Linked DNA regions of Homo sapiens: regions 2, 3, 4, 5 and 6 are each reported to be linked to region 1. Evidence: microRNA targets listed by miRTarBase, many of them from high-throughput screens and not tested one by one. Region 1 holds a microRNA gene; each other region holds the end of a gene's coding sequence.

Region 1 (4,000 bases):
AAATTACTAACCTCTCTAAGGCTTAGTTTCCAAGTCTGTAAAATGGGGATATTACCCACCCTGTGGAGGCGCTATGACTTAAGTATGCATCAAGTGGTAAATAGAGGGTCCTTTTCTTATTTTCACCTCATATCAGACACCTCCTGCTCAGAAACCTTCAGAGGTTGCCCATCACTTGACTATGACACCTAAGCCATGCATTTTGCATTTTGGCCCCTCTCTCTCATCACTCTTCCCCCCAATTACTGGGGCTTGGACTAATCAAAAACATTGGTTGATGGCCAGGAGTGTTGGCTCACATCTGTAATCCCAGCACTTTGAGAGGCTGAGGCAGGTGGATCACCTGAGGTCAGGAGTTCGAGACCAGCCTGGCCAACATGGCGAAACCCTGTCTCTATTAAAAATACAAAAATTAGCTGGGTGTGGTGGCAGGCTGCTGTAATCTCAGCTACTTGAGAGGCTGAGGTGAGAGAATGCTTGAACCCAGGAGGCGGAAGTTGCAGTGAGCCAAAATCATGCCACTGCACTCCACTCCAGCCTGGGCAACAGTGCAAGTCTCAAAAAAAAAAAAAAAACCAAAAAAACAGGCATGGTGGCTCACGCCTGTAATCCCAGCACTTTGGGAGGCCAAGGTGGGCGGATCACCTGAGGTCAGGAGTTTGAGACCAGCCTGACCAACATGGAGAAACCCCATCTCTACTAGAAATACAAAATTAGCTGGGTGTGGTGGCACATGCCTGTAATCCCAGCTACTCGGGAGGCTGAGGCAGGAGAATCCCTTGAACCCGGGAGGCGGAGCTTGCGGTGAGCCAAGATCGCGCACCATTGCACTCCAGCCTGGGCAACAAGAGCAAAACTCCGTCTCAAAAAAAAAAAAAAAAAAAAAAAACAAAAGGCTGATTCCATTACTCTTTCCTCTTTCCTCCCTGCTTTCACTTTGCCGTTCAAACCAAATCCTTCTTGATTAGCTCAGCACCAAGTACTGGCTCCCTCCTCAGCCATCCCTATGTGTAGTTCAGTGGCACTTGGGGCCAACTGCTTGTCTTACAGATTAGGCAACTCTAGATTACAAAGCACTGAAAGCAGGGGCTTCATCTGGTTGGTCTTTGACCCTGCAGAGCCCCTTGCACACAGGTGATGCTCAATAAATACTTGGTGAAAGCACAATTCATTTTCTGTGTTTCAATGGGCTTCTTTTCTCTATAGAATCAGATGCTTGGTTATTCTCACCTCAGCGCTATTTTGTTGGCTTCCAGAAGGCACAGTAACGCTAGGTGTGTTGTGTTCTATCCTTTAATTGGAAGAGCTTTGGGAACTGAAAAATAAGAATTATTTCTCCAAGCCTCATCTTCTGCCACTCCCCCGTACTCACCGGCCTCATACAGGAATTGAACTACTTAGCACTGCACAGAACACGACTTTCTCTCTCACGCCTCCGTTCCTCTGTACTTAGCCTCTGTACTTACGTGCCATTCCCTTTCCCTGAAATGCCCTTACTCTGGCTTCTCTGCCTGGCAAATTCCTACTCATCCTCCAAGACTCAGATCAGACATCGCCGCATCACATCTGTGAAGGCTCTTCTGCAATGGGCAGTGTAGCAGTACCCCCTCCATTTTTTTAGCTTCCTCAGCAAACTCCAAATAATTATAACAGTACTTATGGCATTATTTGTTTATTTTTCTTCTACTTCCTAGACCGTGAATTCCTTAAGGGCCAAGATTTCTGTTCTATCCCCAGCACAGTGTTCGGCCTATATTGGAGAATCCGGTCCGTACAAACTCTGCAGTGATTCAATCAATGAGCAAACAAACTCACCAATCATTCAACACAGCAGAGTTTGTACGGACCGGATTCTCAAATATTTTAAGACCTGGTCCTCTATTTGGAGTGCTTCATTCTGGAAGATCTCTTCCTCCCCCAAGCCCCTACCCATCCAACTGCCTAGGTTTGGTAGAAGAGGAAAATAAAGTGATTAGACGGGGGAAGAGTCCTTCAGGGCTAAGCTGTCATTTACCCGCTCTGGCACCGAGAGGGTTACGGCGACCCGGGGGCGGAGCCGTGCGGAGGCCACCTGCTGCGGGGAGGTCTGGCGCATGCGCCCTGACACCTAGCTGGTTCCCTACCCGCAGGGGCCCGGCTGAGGAGGAGCGCTTGCGCTCTGGGCCTTTTCCGCCGGGGGAAGTCTCGCGGGGGCGGGGCGGGGCCTCGTGGAGAAGTTCTCGCGGGACACCGACGGGGAGCGGAAGCCAGGAGGTATTGCTGCTTCGGCGACCGGGCGGCGGCAGCGGCGGCGGCGGCTGTGGCAGAGTCTGTGCCTGTGGCGGTGACGGCGGCGGGAGCAAGCGCTGCCCTCGCAGAGCAGCCTTGGGGTCGCCGGCCGCTCGCAGCGTTGTGGAGGGGCGGGCCGGACGCTGAGCGGAGCAGCTGCGCCACGGTGAGTACGGGAGGCTGCGCTCGGCGCCTCTCTCGTGCCTTTTCCTCTTGGCTCTACAGCGGGAGTGGGCCCCGGGGGAACCGGGACCGGCCCCGGGGTTCGCGTCGGGGCGGCGAGGCTTGGGACGTGGAGCGCAATCCCCGGGGCTCCGGACTCTACGTTTCCCCTTTTGGGGCGCTTCCTTCCTGGGGACCGTCCTCCTCCGGCTCTTGGCTCTGGGCAGTCCGGGGGAAGAGGTCGGGGTTCTCTGGCGAGGTCCCCTGCCTTCATCGGGAGGGTTTGCACGGAAGGGGCCCGGGAAGCCCAGGCGGGCCGAACGCCGACCGAGTCAGTCTACCCGAGCCTGGCGGCGGGGGACTGGTGTGGGCTGCAGCTGTGGTGATTGATGTGCCTTCGACCTGCACGGCAACCACGTCACCATCTCCTGGCGTCTTTGGGCTTAATTTTGTGCGGGAATCCACTTTGGGGTGGAACGTTTGCTGCTGGAGCCGGGGGAGATACCTTTATTCTGACACTTAAAAAAAAAAACTATTTGAAAAATATTTGTCAAGAAAAATTCAGCAGTAGCAGGTTGGACTGCACCGAGGAAGGATTGCGGCGAGAGCGGGCGCTGGTAATTTTCATTTGCAGCGCGCCCTCTCTATGATTGTAAGCCACACATGAGTTATGGCTTGTTTAGAAAGTTTTTCAAGGCTGGCTTCAAACGCTGTGAAAGTGCAGTTTGCAGGGGACTGAAGTGCACTTGAGGTCTGTCTCTTTTTGATGCTGTTGACTTTCCGAAATGTCAGACACATGAGAGAAATTAGCATTAGTCTATTTTGGCTTTCTTACTCCTCTTTCTCCAGTTATTTCCTTCCTTCTCTATCTGCTTCTGTCCTTTCCACTAGGGACACGAAATGCTTGTGTAATGCAAGTCATTTGCCCCTTCCTCCCCCCACCCCCCCCTTTTTTTCTAATGTACTTCCCCTTCCTCCTTGTAGTCCCCACTCTGGCGTAATTTTTCGAGGTTTCTTCCCTTTCGTGCTGTTCGTTTTCTCTCATTTCAAGATTCCGTCTTTTTCCTCGGGAAGAGACTCTCTTTCCTTGCTTTCGTTCCTTTACTTTTGCGCGTCCCCTGCGTTCCCTGCAGTCAGCCAGAAGGGTTGCTAGAGAGCCGTGGGAGGCTGAAGTCCCCTCTCTGAGAACGGGGAGGCTCAAAAGATTGAATTCATCCCTAAGAAATCAGTCCTGCCACTAGGTCGCAAGTGTGGTTTGCTTGTATTATTTTTGTCTTTTACTCTTTTTCTTTTAAGATTATGCTTCTGTGCCTGCTTATGTTTTCTTCTAGTATGTCTTTATAATAGGAAGATTGGGTCAGCTCAGTGACTTTTTTTTTTTAGGCAGAGTTTTGCTCTTTTTGCCCAGGCTGGAGTGCAATGGTGCTATATGGGCTCACTGCAACTCTGCCTCCTGGGTTCAAGCGATTCTCCTGCCTCAGCCTCCCGAGTAGCTGGGATCACAGGCGCCCACCACCATGTCCAGCGAATTTTGTATTTTTAGTAGAGATGGGGTTTCACTGTGTTGCCC
Region 2 (4,105 bases), not on the chromosome of region 1:
TTATACTTAATGTAATCCATCCGTATGTACTTATTATTTATTAGAATTAAAACCTTCATCTTAGGACATTTTGAGCTTACCAGTTGGTGCTTAACACAAGCTTATGTGTAGTTTTTCTGCCTATCTTAAGAAAAAAAAACAAGATTTAATAATAACTTGTCATCTGCCAAAAAACTTTATATGATTTTTACTTCCTATATTCATGTGGTATATGGGTTACTTTAAGATGTTACCTGCTTAGTGTAGCTTTTTCAGTGCAAAAATGAAGAAAACTTACTGGAAATGAAATGAACTTTAAAAAAATGAACAGATTTCTTGCTTTTACAATGATACTCATCAAAATAATGTACCTAGGGAGAAGGTATTTTGCCATGATTACAGTTTACCTATGATGATGATTAAAATCCTTCCAAATGAGCATTTCGTCCTAAGTCTGTGAAAATGTTTCTTTCCCTAGACTTCTGGAGGACTGTGGACTGAGTGCATAGCACAGCTCAGTCCTGAGCAGCAGGCCGCCATTCAGGAGCTCCTGAACTCTGCGTGAAGGGCCTTAATGTCACCCACCAGAAAACTAACTCCAAATAAACGCTTACCCTTTCCTTTAGGTTTCTTTGTTTTGTTTTTGAGCAAAAGAGATCGGTAGTGTTGTGTGTAGGCCATTCTTCTGGAGAGCCACAAGCAGGAAGAGCAGCGCTGTGTTGCAGAATGGAGTTTCCATGGATTTCTACCAGACCACTGAAGGAGTTCCTGGAAGCCCTGCGGTAGCTAGCACTGAAGACTATTTTTCTATTGGTATAACCCGCCCACCTGAAGGGGAAAGGGAAATCAAATTAATTTTTCTCGTTAGACATAAGGAAATTTAAGGAAAAACAGCTTTAAGAACAGTTACTCAGCGTAGATGTGTGTTCACACAAATTGCTCTGCATTCAGTGTTCATTGTGAATTGGGAGTGTGAGTCTTTCTGTAGGGTAGAAAGAAGCCTCCTACCCAGCAAACCAGTAGACCCAAAAGTTGAAAAAAACTGATGACAGACAACAAGCATGAAGATGGCATATTTGATGTCACTTTGGTTCTTTTTCCCAGAAGGCTTATACAGTGACTCAGTCGGGAAGCTTTCCAGCTTCCAGCCCTTGAATGTGAAGTGTCATTGGCATGTCTGGCAGTAGTCTCTCATTCACTCCTCAATAAACAACATTGAATACAAAAGAGGCTTGTGTAAAAACTCAGTACTGTCTGGCTTGGATTCATTTCATGTTTTTAATATAAGAATGATCTAATATTTTTTTAAAGTAATAGCTATCAGTAATAGCTGAGTGTTTTTTCCCCTAATATTTTCCTTGTGCAATTCAGACTTAAGCATCGAGTTTTTACCATCTTCCACTTTAAGCTAAGTTATGATACCTATTCCATTCACAATTGGTGTTCTTTTTAAGGTTTGCAAATTTCAGCCAATTTTGTAGCTAAGATTGTTCTGATCAGCTCAAAAAGATTTGGCTTAGTGTTTTCATTGCAAATTATAATTGCTGTAGAGCCACACACAACTTTTGAACTTTTAATTATAAGTGTTATGGCTAAAGTTATTTACTGAAAATTTCAGTAAAATGTGTGAATGTTTCTTTATGTATTAACCTCATAGCAGTAAATGACTTGCTGTTGTTTAATTTTTCTAAGGCATCTTAATAGACTTCTGTTGAAAACTTCAGTGTTAACATTTTTATAGTTTGTACTAAATTTAACCGTGATATAAAAATGAATTTTATGCATAGATCAGAATTTTAAATTAAAGGTTTTTTCTTTAAATGATTTGTATTACTTTATTAAAACTAAATCTGAAATGGAATAGAAAATAGAATGGATTACATACAGATGGTTTCCTTGTTAGCAGATGCCCTTCAAATATATTTTACGTTTGCAGCACAACACCATTGCCCGGAGGCTTCCGAATCTAGCAAAGCAGCATATTAAATGACTCCACCTGCGCAGTCCTTGTGTTCAGTGGATGAATACCTGTGGGCTCTTGTAATGTGTGGTAATATTTGGAGCTTTATAGCCTGTATTCCTTGGGAGAAAAAAATGGGAATTGGAGTAAAAAGTGTGTCAAGACAACCCCTTTCTGCTTTCTTATGTAGCATCTGCAAAGCCGATTCATGTACTGATGCCAATCAGCTAGAGCAATGTAGGCTTTTTTTAATTTAAATTATTACTACACTTTATTACTACACTTGCAGAAAAGAAACATGTTAAAATCATGGCACACCTGCAGAATTTCAGATGACAGTGTGGTCAGAAGATGTTTTTTGGGAGAACCTAGTGTTTGCTGGGCACTATGCTAAGCACTTTGGGAGCAAGAACCTCCTACCTTCCAGTTTAAACACTAGTGGTATTGTCAGATGCCGTTAGTATCTGAGATGTACTTACAGCAGGGTTCTAAGAGCTCTGAAAGAAGCGCTCTGTTAGATGCAGACTGGCAGCATCCTCCTTGATAAAAGCAGAAAAGCAAAGAGGTAATTGGAGTTGAATCAAGTTAATAGGGAAGGTTGGTAGTAAATGCTGTTAGTGTGACATGATTCTGAAACCCAGAGCTCAGAACTAACTGTGAGATGTACCATGAACTAACAATTCTTTGAAAGGACCTGCAGAAGCATTTTTAATACCTCATTCTGTCTATGCAAGATGAAAATCCATGGAGTTTTTTCTTGGCTTTTGTACCAAATTTAGGGGTCTTGCATGTCAGCAAGTGATATATATTGTTTATAAATGCAAGCTATTTCTGGAGGGGAAAAATGTGTGTGGCTCTTACGTTTTCTGGGAATTTTGTAACAAGTTACACGCACAAGTGTTAGAAACTTTGGCATAACTCAATTTGGAGTATTTTTTAAATGCTGTATCTTTAAAGAAAAGTAAAATTGTCTTAAATCTAATTGACACTTCTGTAATGAGAGGCAACCTTATAACTCTGGAGTTGTAGTTTGACAGAACCATCAGTAAAGACATAAGCAAATAAATGGTCTTGGTGCACCTGGTCTGATAATAAATAAGGGGGGTGCTTACTTACAGTCTTGCAAGCATTATATTTTTATGATCTAATCTTTTGAGTGAGTGCCTGTTTAAGCAACGTGAAAGGCTAAGGAGCTAGCTAAATGTTTTAATAACTGCTTCATTCTGCCTAGGAGGATTGTTGGGTCAGTTTTCTCTGCTGCACAGAAATCACTTTGCAGGTCGGGCGCGGTGGCTCACGCCTGTAATCCCAGCACTTTGGGAGGCCAAGGCAGGCGGATCACCTGAGGTCAGGAGTTGGAGACCAGCCTGGCCAACATGGTGAAACCACATCTCTACTAAAAATACAAAAAGTAGCCAGGTGTGGTGGCAGGCACCTGTAATCATAGCTACTCCAGAGGCCGAGGCAGGAGAATCACTTGAACCTGGGAGGCAGAGGTTGCAGTGAGCCGAGATTGTGCCATTGCACTCCAGCCTGGGCAACTGGGTGAGACTCCATCTCAAATAAAAATAAAAAAAAAAAAACGAAATCACTTTGCTTCTCTTAACCTTCTTTGCCACAAAAGATTAACAGCCAAAACCTGCCATGTTTGCTATTCCTAAGCAGATTTTCTTTCTCGGCCCTAAAAGTATGAGTACCACTATTAGAAGAAGAAAGTGAATGATCCACAATGTATGCACATCACACTTGGGAGGAAGCATGAATATTTATTTCCAGCACTTGGAACTTCTGAATGGTGGTGCTGAGGAGCAGGGGTTAATTCTAACAACATCCTGCCCTAGACTTAAACCCTTTTTTCCCCACACAGCTGTAACCCTTACAGTGTATGCCAGACAACATTTGGGCTGATTATTTCTATGTATTTATTATATTTGGATGAATACAAACATTTTAAAGATAAATTATAGCTATATTATTCACTTCTCAATGAATCCAAAAGTGGTACAATATAATTTTTTGTAAAACATTACAAAAAATTTTTTCTAAATTCCACTAAGGCAGCAGAGTATAATTATGAAATCTGTTCTTTCATGATTCAGGAGCTTTCATTGTGTATTTCCTTTTGATTGATCTATCATTTCTGTCCTCTTGACTAGCATTCAGATT
Region 3 (4,105 bases), not on the chromosome of region 1:
AGGTATGCCTGGGGAAACCCCACCCAAATGAGCCATGCCAGACAGCCCTTGCCATCAGCTCTCTAGGCACAGGGTCAGCCATTCCAGGGCCCCAGGCTCCACCATTTCTCCTGACTGCTCTGCAGGAAGGCCTCTCACTCATTTCTGAAACAAAATGAGAGACCAGACTTCAAGCTCTGGCCATTAAAAATGGCCAGGTCATCATTTTCATGTTGGGGTAAGCTGCCCTAATTATGTTGATTAGAAGGACAGACCACAATAAGGGTCATTCTTTCATGCCATCCTTTTTCTTCCTCCAGCCACAATCTCACCTCACCACTTGGGAACACATACAACCAAAGCTGGGAGGTAAAATCTTTAGGACTTTGGTCATGCTGAGCCCTCTATAACCCAAGTGCTGCCAGACTTCTTTGAAAACCTAGTGTCCTCCCAAGTAATATACAATACAGTACATTTCATGGCATTCCATCACTTATAATAAGAATGGATGCCAAAGAACAAAGCCAAAATTAGCTGACAATGTTATAAAACAAAAGCAAAGTATACACACTCTATACACACGTATACCTGCACTCAGCCTGCTGAGTATTTAAATAACATCCCCAAATATCCATATGTGGACTTTGGCTGGCCTAGAGACTTTCAAGAATATTTTGCACCTTTTCTCAAAATACTTTTTTTTAAAGAAAATGAACTGTAACACAACTACTCATCTCCTTACTTATATCAGTCCCTCCCTTCCACCCTCCCCACTGGGGAAAAAACTGTTGGGGAATCTGCTAGAGAACTGGTATCTGACAGCAAACTAAGCCGTGGGGTAAACTAAAAAGGGACTCTGGGTAGAGGAAAAAAATCTAACCTCCCATATGTGAATGAGAGTATGAGCTAATACTTCCCAAGAATGCTAGGAATGTGACCTTCATAATGGAAGCACAGACTTATGATTATAGTTAGAGTCAAAAGAAAACAGTCTGGAAAGGGAACTATATAAGACTTTTCCTAAAATTTCATACACAACAGACTTACAATGATTTTCCAGCAAGTAGAGAGTACTTACCCCTCCTTTCTTGACACCTGACTCCCTTGAAGCCCCATCATAGTTCCCAGAAGGACAGTAAGTTAGTGCAGAGAATAGAGTACTTGAAGTATAGCTAAATAGGTGGTAAAAATTCTGAGAATATACTGAACATCCTACCAAAACAAGGCTAAAGCCTGCAGAGCCCAAAGACACTGAGTCAGTTACTTTATCATTTGCAAGTAAAAAGGTTATTAGCACTACATGGAATTTCTGAAAGGCTCCAAGAGTTTAGGGAGCTACTATGCTCAAACATATCATGATCAGAGCCCAGGATAGCCAAAGAGTTAAAAGTTATATGAAAGACCCATTATAGACTCCATTTATACTCCATTAATATTTAAAAGATGGTCATTCTGTCATAGACAACCCTAGAAAATCCCAGCAGCAGATGTGCGACTCATCTTTGTTTTTTGTTTTTTTTTTTGTTTTTTTTTGAGATAGAGTCTCGCTCTGTTGCCCAGGCTGGAGTGCAGTGGCGTGATCTCGGCTCACCATGACCTCTGCCTCCCGGGTTCAAGTGATTCTCCTGCCTCAGCCTCCCAAGTAGCTGGGATTACTGGTGCGTGCCAGCATGCCCGGCTAATTTGCAACTCATCTTATACACCTACCTGGGGACCTGTTTTACAAACTCTCGGGCTGAACACAGGGGCCAGACCACAGTTATTGGGGATTAGGCAGATGGAGGGAGACTACTCACTTCCACTGTCTACTTCCTCGTCTACCTGTTTTTCGGAATCTAATGGACCAGTTTGGTTGAGGAAGGCTTGAAGTCAAGTGCATCTGAGATGCACCAATATTTAAATTGTTCCCCTTCCTCTGCCTAGAATCAGAATTTCTTTCCTCAAGCACACTTCATGAGGAACCCTCCAAAAGACCACCCACCCGCCTCCCACCTTTCAGGGAAACTTCCCAGACACTAGCACACAGGGGTGAGGGGCACACACAGAACTACCAGAGGAGGGTTTTTCTCTTTCGTCTGCTGCTTTTTTTCTTCTAACAGATTTTTAAAAAGGTAAAAAGAAGGAACAAATTGCGGGAGAAATCGTGGTTAAAAGCTCATTGATCAAGTTTTCCAAACGTCAGTGTGTTAGATTCAAACACAAAAAGAAAAATTTCTGATTGTGTTAAGTTTTAAAAACAAGCTGGTTTTCTTCCAGTATGTTTGTACATAGGCCATGGCCTCCAATCATCTCCCACCTCTCAGTTCTCACCCAAATACTTCGCATTGGGTTGGTTTTGCTTAGACACTCACTCCTAAGTACCATGTTATCTGGAGCTTTCCCACTTTGAGATGAAAAGAGGTAAACAAAAGAAAAGACTCAAAGGTAAAAGAACAGATTCTGTTCTGGGGTTAGCAGTAACTCTAAATCCAATAACTCCTGTGTGTATGTCTATATAGATAGAGATATAGACACACACACATATATACATATACACACAAATATATGCATACACATTCTATTTTTTTTTTTTTTTTGAGACAGAGTCTCACTCTGTCGCCCAGGCTGGAGTGCAATGGCATGATCTCGGCTCACTGCAACCTCCGCCTCCCAGGTTCAAGCGATTCTCCTGCCTCAGCCTCCTGAGTATCTTGGATTACAGGCATGCACCACCACGCCCGGCTAATTTTTTGTATCTTTAGTAGAGACGGGGTTTCACCATGTTGGCCAGGCTGCTCTTGAACTCTGGACCTTGTGATCCGCCCGCCTCAGCCTCCCAAAGTGCTGAGATTACAGGCGTGAGCCACCATGCCTGGCCTCTTTTTTTTTTTTTTTCCTCTTTTCAGGGCCTCTTGGTGATGTAACAGTGAAACCCTCCCCCAGAAACCAGGGATATGTGGTCCTATAAATGTAAACACACTGGCACTATGAGGAACAGATAGCTCTGTTTCTAGCTCCCTCACTGGGACTTCTGACCATTGCAACCTGAGATACCTGGCTGCAGACAGCAGGAACCAGACATCCACAAGTTATTGTTTTTGTCCCCATGTTTTCATAATCCCAGAACTAAGCTCAAATTTTCTGAGTCCTGACTAAACTATTCCTAGCTAGAGCCAAAAATCATGAGAATGAGATTTTTTAACACTATTGCCACTGCAGTGTCCCGCTTGCTGTCTTAGAAGTATATACAGTGAAAAGACAATGGTAACATCTGCCTCCTTTTCATTTGTGAAGCCAGAACACCACATTCCTCAGCTTTTACACATCTGAGACACTTTTTTGCTAAAGGGATAGCTTGGCGCTTCAGTGAGCTGCTGAATATGCTCAGTCATTCAACTCTTCACTGTCCAGGAGTCATCCCTGCCTGGGAAGGTTCCAAGTTTCCCAGCAAGCACCAGTTCCCTTGGGAGTGTGTCCTATAGTGAATAAATGTCAAATTCTCCCCATGGCCAAAAGGTGAGGGGGAAGGAAATAACTAGAGAGTGAAAGAGAAAGGTCTTTGCTTTCAAGTAGAATCATCTAGTCCTCTGTTTGGCTGCTCAGAATTGGACTTGCAGAGCCGATTCATGATGCCCTGGAGCATGGGCTGGACAATGCCCAAGAGAGGCCTCTTCAAGGGGTCGCCATCCCAACAGGCTTCCATCAACTGCCAGCACTCCTCATCAAACACAGGAAGACGTTCTGGGCGAGCCCCTAGAGAAAGGAGCATGGAAACAAGATCACAGTGAGAGGGACCCAGCACAACAAAGAGGCATGACCAGCTCAAAGGCTGACTTCCCAGTGGGGCTCAGAATACTAAGAATGCAAGGAGTTTTGACTTCGATTGCAAACATCTAGGTTAGAACCTAACAGTAAGAGCAATTAAAAAAAAAAAGAAAGAAAGAAAAAGAAAAGAAAAACTGGAACACATTAGCATATGAAGTTGAAGAATCGGACATTTTTTAAAAAAGACTTTTCGAGATAGTTCAATAGAGAGTTGACTTGAAGCAAAGGTTGACTTAAATATCTTTTCTGGATTCATGACAGTTTAAACGTATCTACGGCCCTGCTATGGAGTGGCCAGATGGGATGACAGGAGACCCGGTGA
Region 4 (4,105 bases), not on the chromosome of region 1:
GGAGAAGATGTGAGGTAGGAGACCGCCATTTTGATTCCCTCTCCCCTCTCTTATAGGTATTGGTGACCAATCACTGCACCGTGTGTCTGGGAGTTGGGGTGCTTGTTTGCTTGTGCACGTATGTGCCAAGTGTGCTATAATGTGCTTCATGGTTGCCCTGGGAAGGTGGGGTATGAAATGTTCTAGATGTGTGATGCCCGGGTACGGACGCGAGGATGAAAAGTGTAGGAGAACAGTGTGGTGTTCGGTCTGAATGCGTCTAAGACAAAGTTGTGGCTTTGTTTCAGGCTGATCTGAAAGCGCTTCCTGGCGGAGGCTTCATGGTTTCCCATCTCAGCCACAGCCTCCCTCCATAGCCGGGCAGTTCCCCAGGAGTCCTAGGTGTGTGTCCCTGCTCCGCTCAGTGTCCCTCAGCTCTTGCCGGGCCTCTGACTCTCCCTCCTCTCTTCCAGACGCCTACCCTGTATGCATCTCTTTCACCAACTGTGCGTGGACCAGTGGCTCGCCATGAGCAAGAAATGCCCCATCTGCCGAGTGGACATTGAGACACAACTGGGAGCCGACAGCTGAGGGAGGAATTAGCCAGTGGACACCCCATTTCCTTCACCAGGTCCCCCCACGGCCATAGCCCTTGCAGCCAAACTTTGCCTTCTGAGCCATTTGACGTAGAGGAAAAGCCTGCAAGCACATTTTGTGGAAAGAGGAGTTGGTGGTATCGGTGTCGAGGGAGAGGAGGGGGTTGGGGAGGACCCACCTCTCCAGAATGGCGACTGTCCCCATCCGCCTGGCTGAGCAGGAGAGAGGGAGCTGGCGGTGCCCAGCGCAAGGGCGGGAAGGAGGGGCCCAGGCTGCGGAGAACCCAGGTGGGATCCTGAAGGCACTAGCTGACAGACGGGCCCCTCAATCCTGTCCTCTGAAGGATTGTATATATACCTCTCGACCACGTAGGAACCATGTAGGGGTCTCTAGCTATTTCTGTGGATGGCAGCCGGAGCATGTTAGCTTAAGAAAAATGTTGTGTGTGGTGCTCTAGTCATCTTGTGGTGGACATGTCGCTATTACCGAATTCGCACCAAATATTTCTCATTGAGTTTCTTGTTTTGGTGCCTGACCGAACCAACGACAGCCCCAATCTTCCCGTCTTTATGAGAGAAAAGGAAAAAGGAATCAAAGGTGGAAGAAAAAAAAAGCCAAATTCTGTTTACGGTGAAAAAGGATTTTGTTTTTCACCCAATTTGGGAGGCGGGAGGGGGGGGTTCTCGTTTTATTTTTGTTTTTGTTTTTACCTTGGCTTTTGTTTTTCTCATGTTTACAGTGCACGGAGTGTGGAAGGGGGTCTAGGAGAGGGAGAGCTGGAAAAGGAGCTGATGGGGTCTTATCCTGGCCTCTGAGGGTTCAGCGGAGGTGAGGAAGGCAGCAGAGCTCCAGCAGGTGAAGGGAGAGTTCATCTAGGCGGGGCTCCCCAGGCCCAGGGCTCAACTTCATGGCCCCAGCTATATCCCCCCAGTTCCACACTAAACCAGGGAGGGCTCGGCCCTCAGCTACTGGTACCCAATGTGTTCCTGGGAGCCGAGAGACCCATGGTCACTCCAACTCCTTCCTTTAGGCTGTGCTCTTGCCTGTCACAAAGAGGCAACGTAGCCACTGCCTCCCTATGCAAAAAATTAACCAGATGATGCAGATAAGACAGCATAGGTGATGGCTGCTTGGTCTTGGCCACAGTGCTCTCAGCCAGCACTAAGGGCTGAGGTCAATACCGCAGACCTTGGGGAGGAAGCTGAGCATCCCCCGGGATGTCTCCAGTCCTGACACAGTCCCTCAGAGATGGCCCTGGCTCTGAGGTCACATCAGCTAGGTTTGGGAGGCCCCTCAGCTTGGTTTGGGAGTGCCCGTGTTCCTGGTCTCTGGCTGCTTCTCTGACTCTTTGATAACCTTGGGCAAGTCCCTTTCTTTCTCTGTGCCTCAGTTTCCTTCTCCTTTGAGGGGGGAGAGAGAACAGTGCAGCCCCATTTCCGGTCCTGCTACCTCACCTAGATGTTGTGAGGATTCATATTCTCTGTCCAGCGTGTTCTATGCTCTCTTCTGAGAACCTTGTGGGGTGTCGGGATGGGGGTGCTGGGAGACACAGACCTGATACAGTATGTCTTTCTGCACCACCTCACAATTTTCCTGAACCCCAAAGGGAGCAGAGAGATAAGAGGACAGAAGAATGGAGATGGGAAAATCCACCAAATTCCAACCCAAACCCAACTTTCTTTCTCCCTATGTGGAAGACACCAGATTAGCTGGAATTCTGCCACCTTCCTTTGTGCCCCACCCCCCACTGTTCCCTCATTTGCACTGCTCTGTAAGCCTCCCCCTCACCTCCATTCATAACCCAGTCTCAATGCCCTCGTATCAATAAGACCGGGGTAAGGGGGACAGGATACTTGTCACATATTTGAAGAAATTCCATACAGTGAAGGAAATTTGAGTCTGTATTGCTGCTACAAGGGTAAAACCAGGACCAATGGGTAAAAGTAACAGGCGGGCAGATTTTGGCTTGAGGAAGAGCTTCTAGCACGACTGGTTCATGCGGGAATAGCTGCTCTGGCCACCTGCAGGCAGAAAGTGGGGGAAGTGGCTCCTGGCAGGAGATTTCTCCCAGCACTAATATCCTGGTGTTCTATAAAATCTTTATTGAGTGCCTACCGGTGCAGGCGCTGGGAGAGACAATAGCTTTGAGGAGCTCACAATCTAGCTGAGGAGACAAGACACATCCAATGCTGCAAAAATGGTGAATAACCTGATTCAGGGTTAGCAGCAATGAGTATCACAGCGTCCAACTCAGTAGCTCCAGTGTATGAAAATGTCTCCAGGGCTAAAGGCTGGAGATCTCACCAGTGGGGAAAGTACATCTGAGTCAGGATTTTGGGGGAAAGCTAGTTACTGATAGCCACAGGAAGTTGAGACTTCTGCCCCATTCTCTCCAATGGCTGGGTGAAAACCAAGAATTCATCGGAAGATGGCTTTGGCCTGGAGGTAGCTAGGGTGGTCTAGGAAGCTCACTCCTCTCTTAGTCTCAGTCTTTCATTCTTTCTGCTGAGACTGGCCTGAAAGGCTGGCAAGTGGGAGGGAGTCAGTGGGGAGGCCAGGATAGAACTAGAGCTGGTGTCCCAGGTTCCAGTCTGGGCTCTTCACTGACAAAGTGGGCAACACTAGAAACTTCCCTTTGTCTCTCTGGGCCTTAGTTTCCTCAGTTACAACCTAAGGAGGTTGGATTGGATGCTTGCTAATTTCCTTCTGACACTCACACTCCCTAACATCAACACATCTTCAAGGCGGCAGAGCTGTGCGCCCACCCAGCTATTGAAAAGGACTTTCTGTGGGCACACACTCTGTTTCAGACTGGGCTGGGGGCACACGTGCTGGGTGAGACAGTGGGCCCTCGTCCCCTCCCCCCTCCCAATTCTCTGCCCCAGGCTAATATTAGGGACTGGGGAGGGGACCACCAGAGGGGAGAGGGAAGCTGCTTACTTTGGGGGTAGACCCTGAAGCCCCTCCTCCTTCCCCCACAGATGGGGACAGGAGGTGATGGGGTGCTCAGAACCCTGCAGCTCCCACTTCTTTAGCCGGGCAGCTGTTTGGGGGACAAGAGAGGGCCAGGGTCTGTGCTTCTGCTCCCGGCACTGGTCAGGGAGTCTGGGAAGAGTGGAGAAGAGGCAGGGTCAGGCCTCAGCATCTCACATCCACCACCTCCAGGAGGGGAGACCACTGGTAAGTCCTCCTCCTGCTCAACTCAAGGGACTCAGACCCTTTCTTGACTGAGACGCATGAGTGCCTTCTGGGGTGAGAGCAGCCCCAGGGTTTAAGTTGGGCGTCCTAGCAGCTGCAGCAGCTGTGCCGCCGCGGGTCCACCGAGGACGCCAATCAATCAACCCAACACCACAAGCTTGGTTGGGTGCAAGCAGAGGGTGAGCAGGGGCTGCCCCTCCACCTGGCCAGGACCCCCTTCGGCACCCAGTTGCCCTTGGCCACCACCTGTGGCAGGACTCAAGCTCCTCTTCTGCAAATGTTCCCAGCCTCCGTGCAAGTATTCTTAACTCTTTACGCCTAATGAACAAGC
Region 5 (4,105 bases), not on the chromosome of region 1:
CAGGCCAGACTGACAACCTCAGGACAGCCTTCTTTTCTGTTCCCTTGGAAGACATTTGGTCCTCGAAAGACTTTTAACCTTTTGAACTTCAGCTGGGAAGGATGAACTGCTTCACACTGAACCCAGAAGGGAGGCAAACTGCTGCACCAGCAAACCAGGCTGAAAGAAGGCCAAAGGGCAAAGCCAGCCCTGCTCACCCCACCCCACACACAGGATGGGGGAGAACTGGAACATCGGCAGCAGTGCCGGCAGTGATCTCCTTCACCTTCAACAGGCAGCACCTGCTCTGATGAGAACCTGGGATTTGGAGGAAGGGGTGATATCTCATACAACTATTGTGGGCTTTAGCTTCCCGTAGAATTGTGGATGTGCACATAAGGACTGACACGCTGTACTCGGCTCTGATCCCGCATTCATCTGTGTACCCAGGACGTTAGTAGTATTGGACTCTATGCAGACTATGTGATCTTGTGCAGAGCCTGAGTTGTCTTGGTTTTCTCCTCATCTAATTTCTCAAATACTTCATTGAATAACAATTTAAAGGGGCCTAGCAGGTGCCAGGTAATGAGCTTGGGGCTGGAGAGCAGTAAGAGCCAGTTCCTGTTCTCAAGCAACTCACTCGGTGGGGCAAACCACACATTCCGCAAGAGCTTGCACTCACGCTCAGGAGATCACATTTAAAATCAAGAAAGCCCAGTCAAGGTATGTGGTATGGTTTAGACCTGTGTCCTGCCCAAACTTCACGTCGAATTGAAGTCCCCAGTGTTGGAGGTGGGGCCTGGTGGGAGATGACTGGATCATGGGGGTGGTTTTCTCATGGTTTAACACCATCTCCCTTGGTGCTGTTCTCATGATAATGAGTTCTCATGAGATCTGGTGATTTAAAAGTGTATAGTAAGGCCAGGCACAGTGGCTCATGCCTGTAATCCCAACACTTTGGGAGGCCGAGGCGGGTGGATCATTTGAGGTCATGAGTTCAAGACCAGCCTGGCCAACATGGTAAAACCCCACCTCTACTAAAAAATAAAATAAAATACAAAATACAAAAATTAGCTGGGAGTGGTGGCAGGTGCCTGTAGTCCCAGCTACTCAGGAGGATGAGTCAGGAGAATCACTTGAACTCAGGAGGTGGAGGCTGCAATGAGCCAAGACTGCACCACTGCACTACAGCCTTGGTGAAAGAGCGAGACTGTCTCAAAAAAAAAAAAAAAAAAAAAAAAAAAAGAAACTGTGTAGTACATTCCCCCTTACTCTCTCTTGCTCCTGTTCCTGTCATGTGAGACAACTGCTCCCCTTTCGTCTTTCACAATGATGGTAAGCTTCCTGAAACCTCCCCAGAAGCTGAGCAGATGCCAGCATCATGCTCCCTCCACAGCCTGCAAAACAGTGAGCCAATTAAACTTCTTTTCTTTATAAATTATCCAGTCTCGGGTATTTCTATAGCAATGTGAGAACAGACTAATATAACATGCCTGCCTGACTGCCCAAATTCTAAATGTCTGTTTCTGTCTGCCCCACAAGTTCCAACACATTCCTTTTCAGCTAAGACACAGAAACGGGAGCTAAAAGGTAATCTATTATACCATTAGTACCAAAATCGGGTGCAGAGCTTCAGGTCTGACCAGAAAGTGAGTCTAGTCTAGGAGAAAGGAGCAGATAACACCACACAGGAGGAGGTGGCATGAGGTTGTGAGGCTCAACTGTGGCCCCTGCGTGCCTAGTCCCTAGCACTAGTTCCTAGTGCTCAAGTGCCTCTGTGAGACTCCAGGGGCATTTTTAATCAATGTATGATCTGATGCTCCAAAAGTCTGAGGCTACTTAATTGCAGCACTGTGACCTAGGTGGCTGGACCACCAGGAAGTACCCAAGAATCCCCCAATCCACTAAGGGGGATGAGCCTCCACACTCGGGGAGCCTTCCATCCCAGATAGTGACCCCAGGATGCTAGAAAGAGCACACTGATTTAGCCACTTTGCTTTTCTTTGCCATCCTACTTTGCTACAGTTTTCAATAAACTTCAGTACCTCGCAGTAAGTTGGACCTAAAGAAGAATTTAGCAATGTAAGTGGAATTCATAGAGGCAGAGTTGCACTGCTGAGAGGGACACCTGCAAGTGAATCAGGTTAGATTGCTCCCAGACATACACTACTCCCCGTCACCACCTAAATGTCATCACTGAAATGAAACACAGAAACACACTCGTGAAATCATAGATTTATATCTTTGCCATTTATTTTTTAAAATCTTATTCAAAATATTAAATAATAGTTTCAGATATGAAAAAAATTACTGCAATAAAACGGTTCAGGGGTATTTCCATTGTGCTTCCCTTCCCTATTAGGAAAGTACACTGTCCGCCCAAGAGACAGGATGGACGGCCTTCTTCCAGCTCTACATAAAGCGCAAGCCCACTGGCTCACCCGGGTCCTGCTTAACATATATTAGGGCTATGTTTTCTAAAAAGCTGTAGTGACACTTGTAAGTCAACCATGGTTCAAATCACATATTTACATATTGATCAATTCTTTATGATAGAAAGACAGACATAAATGAATCCCATAGTAAATACTTTCCAGTTGCCATAAAAAACAAAAACAAAGAAAACAAGTGTGGGGGAAAAAAGGTAATTGTACACAAATATCCTTTATGTATACAAACAACTTCATTCAGGTATAATTTTAATTTGAAAGACCTAGGTACAGTATTATTTAAGTGATAATGACCCCTAAGATTTATTCAAATTTACTGTAAAATAATAAACGAAGTAAACGAATCTGATATAATTTTAAACTCTGCCCATTGCTTGAAACCTTGGAGGAACCCATGCTACAATCAATTGCTAACTAAAAGCAATTGTACATGTATTTAACATTTTACCAGTTTCTGCTTCTAAATTTAATATAGTAATTCCAACCAAAAAAATAGTATCTCTGTAACATTTTATCTATGTCCACTGCAAGCTGCAGAGTCTCTGTTGCCAAGATTTCTTGACACATTTAATGTTTTACCTAAAATTGTGGTCAGATTGAGCAATATCATTATCCTAAATTATGTTTAAATTATCTAAAAATATCCAAAGCAGTTTTCTTGGAAGAAAAAAAAATATTACTCAAATCCAAAGCATTATCACACATATCCTTGTACATTACAGTTTGGGAACAAAAAAAAATGTGGATAAAAAATAGTATTTGAATGGCGGAGAATGAATGTGAGTCAGCAGTAACAGATATGTCAGAATTTAGTTACAAGTTTGGGATCTTTTAAAAGTAGCATCACTAATACTTCCAGAAGAAGCATAATAAATCTAAAACAATAAAAACTAACAGTGTAAATATAAGGTAATGTTTAACTCACATTTTGGACACCTGATTAAACTCAGCTCTAAAAGTACAGATAAAAAATTATATACTCGTTTGTGACATTTAATTTCCAAAGCACCAAGGCAAAAGAGAGACTCACCTCTCATTTAAGTACCAATTGCCTATGGCAAACATTTGCACAATATCATATAAAAAGTCAAGCAAATAAAATTACATAAGCAAATTCAAATCACAGTGCTTTAAAAAATATAATCATTGGTAATCTTCAAAGAAGGCATTGCCTCATTAACATTCTGATCTAGGCGATGGTATTCCACTGTTTTGGAACAAAGGCCATCACGCCATTTCCTGCTTTGAACCAGAAGAAAAATCTGGAAAACAGAAGTCATTAAATAGGCAAAAGAGAAAACAGAGAATATGGTAAACATTTTTATAACAAGTAAAATATCTCTCTTCTAGGTTTCTAAATATAAAACACAAAATATCAACAACAAAAAAGCTATTTTAGGCCGAGGCAGGCAGATCACTTGAGCCCAGGAGTCCGAGACCAGCCTAAGCAACATGGTGAAACACCATCTCTACAAAAAATACAAAATTAGCCAGGCATGGAGGCGCTTGCCTGTAGTCCCAGCTACTCAGGAGGCTAAGGTGGAGGATCACTCGAGCCCAGGAGGCAGAGATCACAGTAAGCCATGACAGCACCACAACACTTCAGCCTGGGTGACAAAGCAAGACCCTGTCTCAAAAAAAAAAAAAAACAAAAGCTATTTTGCTTTCCATCTTGT
Region 6 (4,105 bases), not on the chromosome of region 1:
ACCACATGGGCCAAGTCTGCACAGATGGTTTTATTAATCCCACTCCCTTCGGCACAAAACCCTACTCCCCGAGAAGTCTCCTGGCAGCACAAGGGCCCTGATTTTTCCCTGTGCCTCCCCCCGCCCCCAGCGCCTGACCCCAACCCCACTCCTCCCCTGCTGCCCCCTTCAAAGGAAGCGGAGTTCCAACTGCAACCCAGACATGAACTCCAACCTGAAAATCATTTTACACCACCCCTTTCATCCAACCGCATCTGGGAAAGGCATCTAGGGGACCCTCTTCCCAATACCCACCTTGACCTTTGGAGACTTTACCTGGGAAGGAAGATCATTATCAGGAAGTTGGTTTAGGAATGTCTGGTCCATTCTTTTTTTGGAGGGGACAGAGTCTCGCTCTGTAGCCCAGGCTGGAGTGCAGTGGTGCGATCTCGGCTCACTGCAGCCTCCGCCTCTCAGGTTCATGCCATTCTCCTGCCTTAGCCTCCTGAGCAGCTGGGACTACAGGCACGCACCACCATGCCCAGCTAATTTTTGTATTTTTAGTAGAGATGGGGTTTCACCATGTTGGCCAGGATGGTCTCGATCTCTTGACCTTGTGATCCGCCCGCCTCGGCCTCCCAAAGTGCTGGGATTACAGGCGTGAGCCACCGCGCCCGAGCATCTGGTCCATTCTTAGAGACAAAGTCGCAACCCAGAAACTGCCATTTTCCAGAAATGCAGGAGCTTTTAAAGCATTTGTTTGCACACTCGCTAAGACTCCAGGTCCTGTTCGGAAAGCCTCATCTTACCCTTGCTATCCTCCTGTGAGATAGGTACTACACTACAGTGACTGCTGTTTTCCGGAGGCTCGTCCAAGGCCACAAAGCCAGTATTTGAATCCAGGTCTGACTCAGGAGCGCATGCGCTCCTCATTGGGCCAACCCACCGACACCATGGAATAATTTCCCTCTACCCAGCAACTTTGCAAAACAGCTGACACTGTCACAAATAGTGGTGTGCAAACTCTCTTAGGCAAGGTCACCTAGGGAGTTGAGGAAATGCATATTCCTGGGCCTGGCCCTAGAAGTGTTGACTTGGTACATCTCAGGTGGGGCCCTGGAATCTGCATTTTCACAACCCCCCTCCCAGATGCTGCTGATGTGTGTGGTCTGAGGATAGCTGGTCAGGAGGCTCTTAGAGAAAGGAACATGGGTCTTTGGGCCCAGGGATCTTGGGCCCTCAGGCCAGGCACTTTTCACGGCACTATCAGGTCCCAACACGCCTTCAGAATGAAGCGTCCCCACCGCAAGCTTAATGTGCTCTTGCTAATTCTTTGGAAACTAGCCGTGACACGTGATCACATCTTAGTAAATTTCTTGACTGTCATTTTATCACCCATTGATCCCCTAAATAAGCCAGAGTTTCCTGTCCTTTCTGTCGGGGGCTCTGCCCACATGGCTAGCAGAACAAGTTCACTCTGCAACAGTTCAGCAAACATCACCGTGCACTCAGCCCCAGGGGACACAAAGACGAATGAAGGACCTGCTCCTTCCCCTAGAGCCTGGACTCTGAGGACGCCCACAATGGCTCACACTCTGCTCCTAAAAAGCCCACGGTCAACTCAAGTTCTACAACCCCACAAACCAACCTGATGCGCTCACGAAGGCACAGAATCACTGTCTGTTAGACTTGGCAAGTTTCTGCAGCTTGGGCTGCCAGGCTGAGGAACTTCTGAAATGGGGATGAGGCTGTTCTGGGGTCCTCCCTCCAGGACTCTCCTTCTCCTTCTCTGTCTGGGGCTTTGCCTGGCATCCCACCCTCTGCCAAGGGGTGGTAGGGAGTCAGCCCATCATCTGCTGAAAACTGTGGGCCGTGGAGCTGGCTGGACCCAGGAGGGGTCAGCTATGTCTCTTTCCCCTCCCCCGAGGCACAAACGAGGAATTCAAAAATGGTTTGATATTTTAACAAACGTTCCTTTATTAGGTTACTGACTATTATCAACCATCATAAAATAGAACGGGAGTTTCAAAACTGTACAAGCCACAAGGCTCTGGGCTGGTAGGAAAGAAGGGTGGGGTCGAGGGTCCCAGGGTGTCGGGGGGTGGGAGATGCAGAGAGAGCTAGAGGGTCACCCGGCATCTGTGAGGACGGCTGGGTCAAGGCCATAAGCTGGGATCTGTACAAGGGAAACATTCATCAGAATGTGACCCACCTGAAACAGGAGGGAGGAAAATCTTTAAAAGTCTTACAGGTAAGGTCCCCTGCCCCGAAAAAAAAAACCGTCAAAATAATAAGGGGGTAATGTACATTTCTCACCCAGTCTTGGCACCAATTTTGTGCTTTAAAAAATATACTCCACTGTAAGATTTACTTAAAAAAAGGTACTCTACAGCAGCTGTTTAAAACATAATTCTTACAGACAAATATATATATATGTATGTATATATATTAAACATTTTAAACAAATAAAGTCATCTATTGTACCTGTGCAGAAATGAACCAAAGTTAGACTCTAAGAGAGTTAACTTCAAGCTCAAAGAAATGGCAAAGGCGGTGGCAGGTGCTGGGGTACGCTACGTGGAGGGGTTGCCAGGGATAGGGCACCCCTCTCTTCCGGCAGCCGAGCTACCCCTCTTGAGGCTCTGAGAGGGGTTGGGATGAACTGGGGCTGTTACCCTGGGTCCAGAGCCCCGGCTGGGGTGCTGAGCAGAGACCCGCGCTGGCTTCTGTGAGGCTCGACTCTGCTCCTGGTCTTCCCCATCCCACCCTGCCCCCGGCTTCTCGGGGAATGGAGACCCACTCGCCCTCCCTTCTTAGTTCTGGGGGTCCTCTGGCACACCCAGAGCTTCTGAGGATGCACTTGGGAAATCTCAGCTAGAAAAGCAAAAGCAAAATCAAACCCACATCAAAAGACCCACAGAAGACTAAAGAAATGCAACCCTGTGCAAGGGTGCCTGAGCCCAAGAGTTAGCTGGTTACCTGGAGACACAGGGGAATTGCTGCAGCCCTTCCAGACGGGCCCCCGAAGACACCCAGATTGCACGTGAGGCTATTTCTCCCTGAGGGGCCCGCTAGGGAACTTGGAGCAGAGCCCCCTGGAAACTGCAGGGCAAGGGACCCAGAGACATACTTGTGCCTGGGCACGTGTGCACATGTGCCCAGGGAGGGCGGGCGAGGCATACATATCCCAGGGAGGGCACAGGTGGAAGGAAAGTAACAGAACAGCCAGAGAGAGGGGACTGAAACAGGGTTTCCTTTCTAGATGGAATAAATAAATGGCTTTTGTTATTGTTAAAAGAATAAATACAGGGTACGGGGCACCGGCAGCCAGGATGGGTGCTGGGTGCTTATTTGCCTGCAGACAGTTCTTGGTTTCTGCCTTGGGGTCCATGGTGAGTTTTTGACGTCCTGAGCTTTATCTGCCATGGCATGGCCCCGCTGGGCACCCTGGGCCGGGCACCAGCCCTTGTCTAAGCACCTCTTAGTACCCCTGGTATCTGCTCTCAGAGCTGTGGTACCACCTGCCACCCCCACCACCCTGGGACCCCCAGGTGGCTGCAGCCTTCTCCCAGAGGTGTGGGAAGCACCCGTCCCACCCCGAGCAGATTGGAGCTCAATGTAGGGCTTTCGTAGGAGTTTATTCTCTGTGTCTTTTTTCAAAGAGGGGTTGTATACGGACGGCATGCAGGGATGCTGCCTTCTGCTGATGTCGGGAAGGGGGAAAGAGGAGCCTGTGTTGGAATCGGTCCTTGTCCCATGGAGGCAGCCACGGAGGATGAGGGAAGACCAGGGACCTCTGTCCATGGCTACGGATGCCGGTCCAAGGTGCAGGGTGCGGCGGCCCCAGCGGCAGGCGGCTCAGTGAGTTGGCACCAGGTGGCTGTCGCGCTGGCGGTATGATGGCGAACGTCACTGGTAGAGGAGGTAGGCCTTGAGGGAAGCCGGCAGCGGCAGCGTGTGGATCTCCCCCAGGCGCTCCCTCCCCAGGGCCAGGCGCACCGAGCGACGGCACAAATCCATGAGCGGCAGCGGCTCGGCTGGGGAGACAGAGAAACTGCAGGTCAGCGCAGCTTGGGTGGGTGTTCAGCAAACAGCGCTAACCACAGCAGCAATATTATCACTGATT

Evidence for each region. Region 1 holds the annotated microRNA hsa-miR-3678-3p (CUGCAGAGUUUGUACGGACCGG, at 1,765-1,786, opposite strand). A microRNA usually pairs through its seed, bases 2 to 8, with sites in the 3' UTR of a target mRNA and lowers its output. Matches are read on the target gene's strand: a 7mer-m8 pairs with bases 2 to 8, a 7mer-A1 pairs with bases 2 to 7 and ends in A, and an 8mer does both.
Region 2: miRTarBase lists IPO5 as a target of hsa-miR-3678-3p. Seed matches in the 3' UTR shown: 7mer-m8 at 919-925 and 7mer-A1 at 2,132-2,138.
Region 3: miRTarBase lists DSTYK as a target of hsa-miR-3678-3p. Seed matches in the 3' UTR shown: 7mer-m8 at 1,214-1,220 and 7mer-m8 at 1,124-1,130.
Region 4: miRTarBase lists ARK2C as a target of hsa-miR-3678-3p. Seed matches in the 3' UTR shown: 7mer-A1 at 4,045-4,051.
Region 5: miRTarBase lists C5orf15 as a target of hsa-miR-3678-3p. Seed matches in the 3' UTR shown: 7mer-m8 at 2,962-2,968.
Region 6: miRTarBase lists SPSB1 as a target of hsa-miR-3678-3p. Seed matches in the 3' UTR shown: 7mer-m8 at 2,089-2,095.

Annotation. Positions count from the first base shown.
Region 1 is chr17:75,403,923-75,407,922 of GRCh38, reverse strand. It overlaps MIR3678 (microRNA 3678), which reads right to left and starts at 1,854; the gene lies at 1,761-1,854. It overlaps GRB2 (growth factor receptor bound protein 2), which reads left to right and starts at 2,245. Exons shown (of 6, transcript NM_002086.5): 1 at 2,245-2,434. RefSeq lists a silencer at 2,008-2,187.
Region 2 is chr13:98,021,279-98,025,383 of GRCh38, forward strand. IPO5 (importin 5) reads left to right here. Exons shown (of 29, transcript NM_002271.6): 29 at 458-3,018. The coding sequence ends at 544. Among named protein-coding and RNA genes, the nearest start is that of IPO5, 70 kb to the left of the region's middle.
Region 3 is chr1:205,144,035-205,148,139 of GRCh38, forward strand. DSTYK (dual serine/threonine and tyrosine protein kinase) reads right to left here. Exons shown (of 13, transcript NM_015375.3): 13 at 1-3,711. The coding sequence ends at 3,524. Among named protein-coding and RNA genes, the nearest start is that of RBBP5, 24 kb to the left of the region's middle.
Region 4 is chr18:46,456,067-46,460,171 of GRCh38, forward strand. ARK2C (arkadia (RNF111) C-terminal like ring finger ubiquitin ligase 2C) reads left to right here. Exons shown (of 8, transcript NM_152470.3): 7 at 1-14; 8 at 453-4,105. The coding sequence ends at 570. Among named protein-coding and RNA genes, the nearest start is that of ARK2C, 120 kb to the left of the region's middle. RefSeq lists an enhancer at 2,068-2,857.
Region 5 is chr5:133,953,300-133,957,404 of GRCh38, forward strand. C5orf15 (chromosome 5 open reading frame 15) reads right to left here. Exons shown (of 3, transcript NM_020199.3): 3 at 2,211-3,691. The coding sequence ends at 3,560. LOC105379182 (a long non-coding RNA gene) reads right to left here and starts at 313. Exons shown (of 5, transcript XR_948797.3): 1 at 1-313.
Region 6 is chr1:9,367,359-9,371,463 of GRCh38, reverse strand. It overlaps SPSB1 (splA/ryanodine receptor domain and SOCS box containing 1), which reads right to left. Exons shown (of 3, transcript NM_025106.4): 3 at 1,932-4,016. The coding sequence ends at 3,889. Among named protein-coding and RNA genes, the nearest start is that of LINC02606, 60 kb to the left of the region's middle. RefSeq lists an enhancer at 1-396.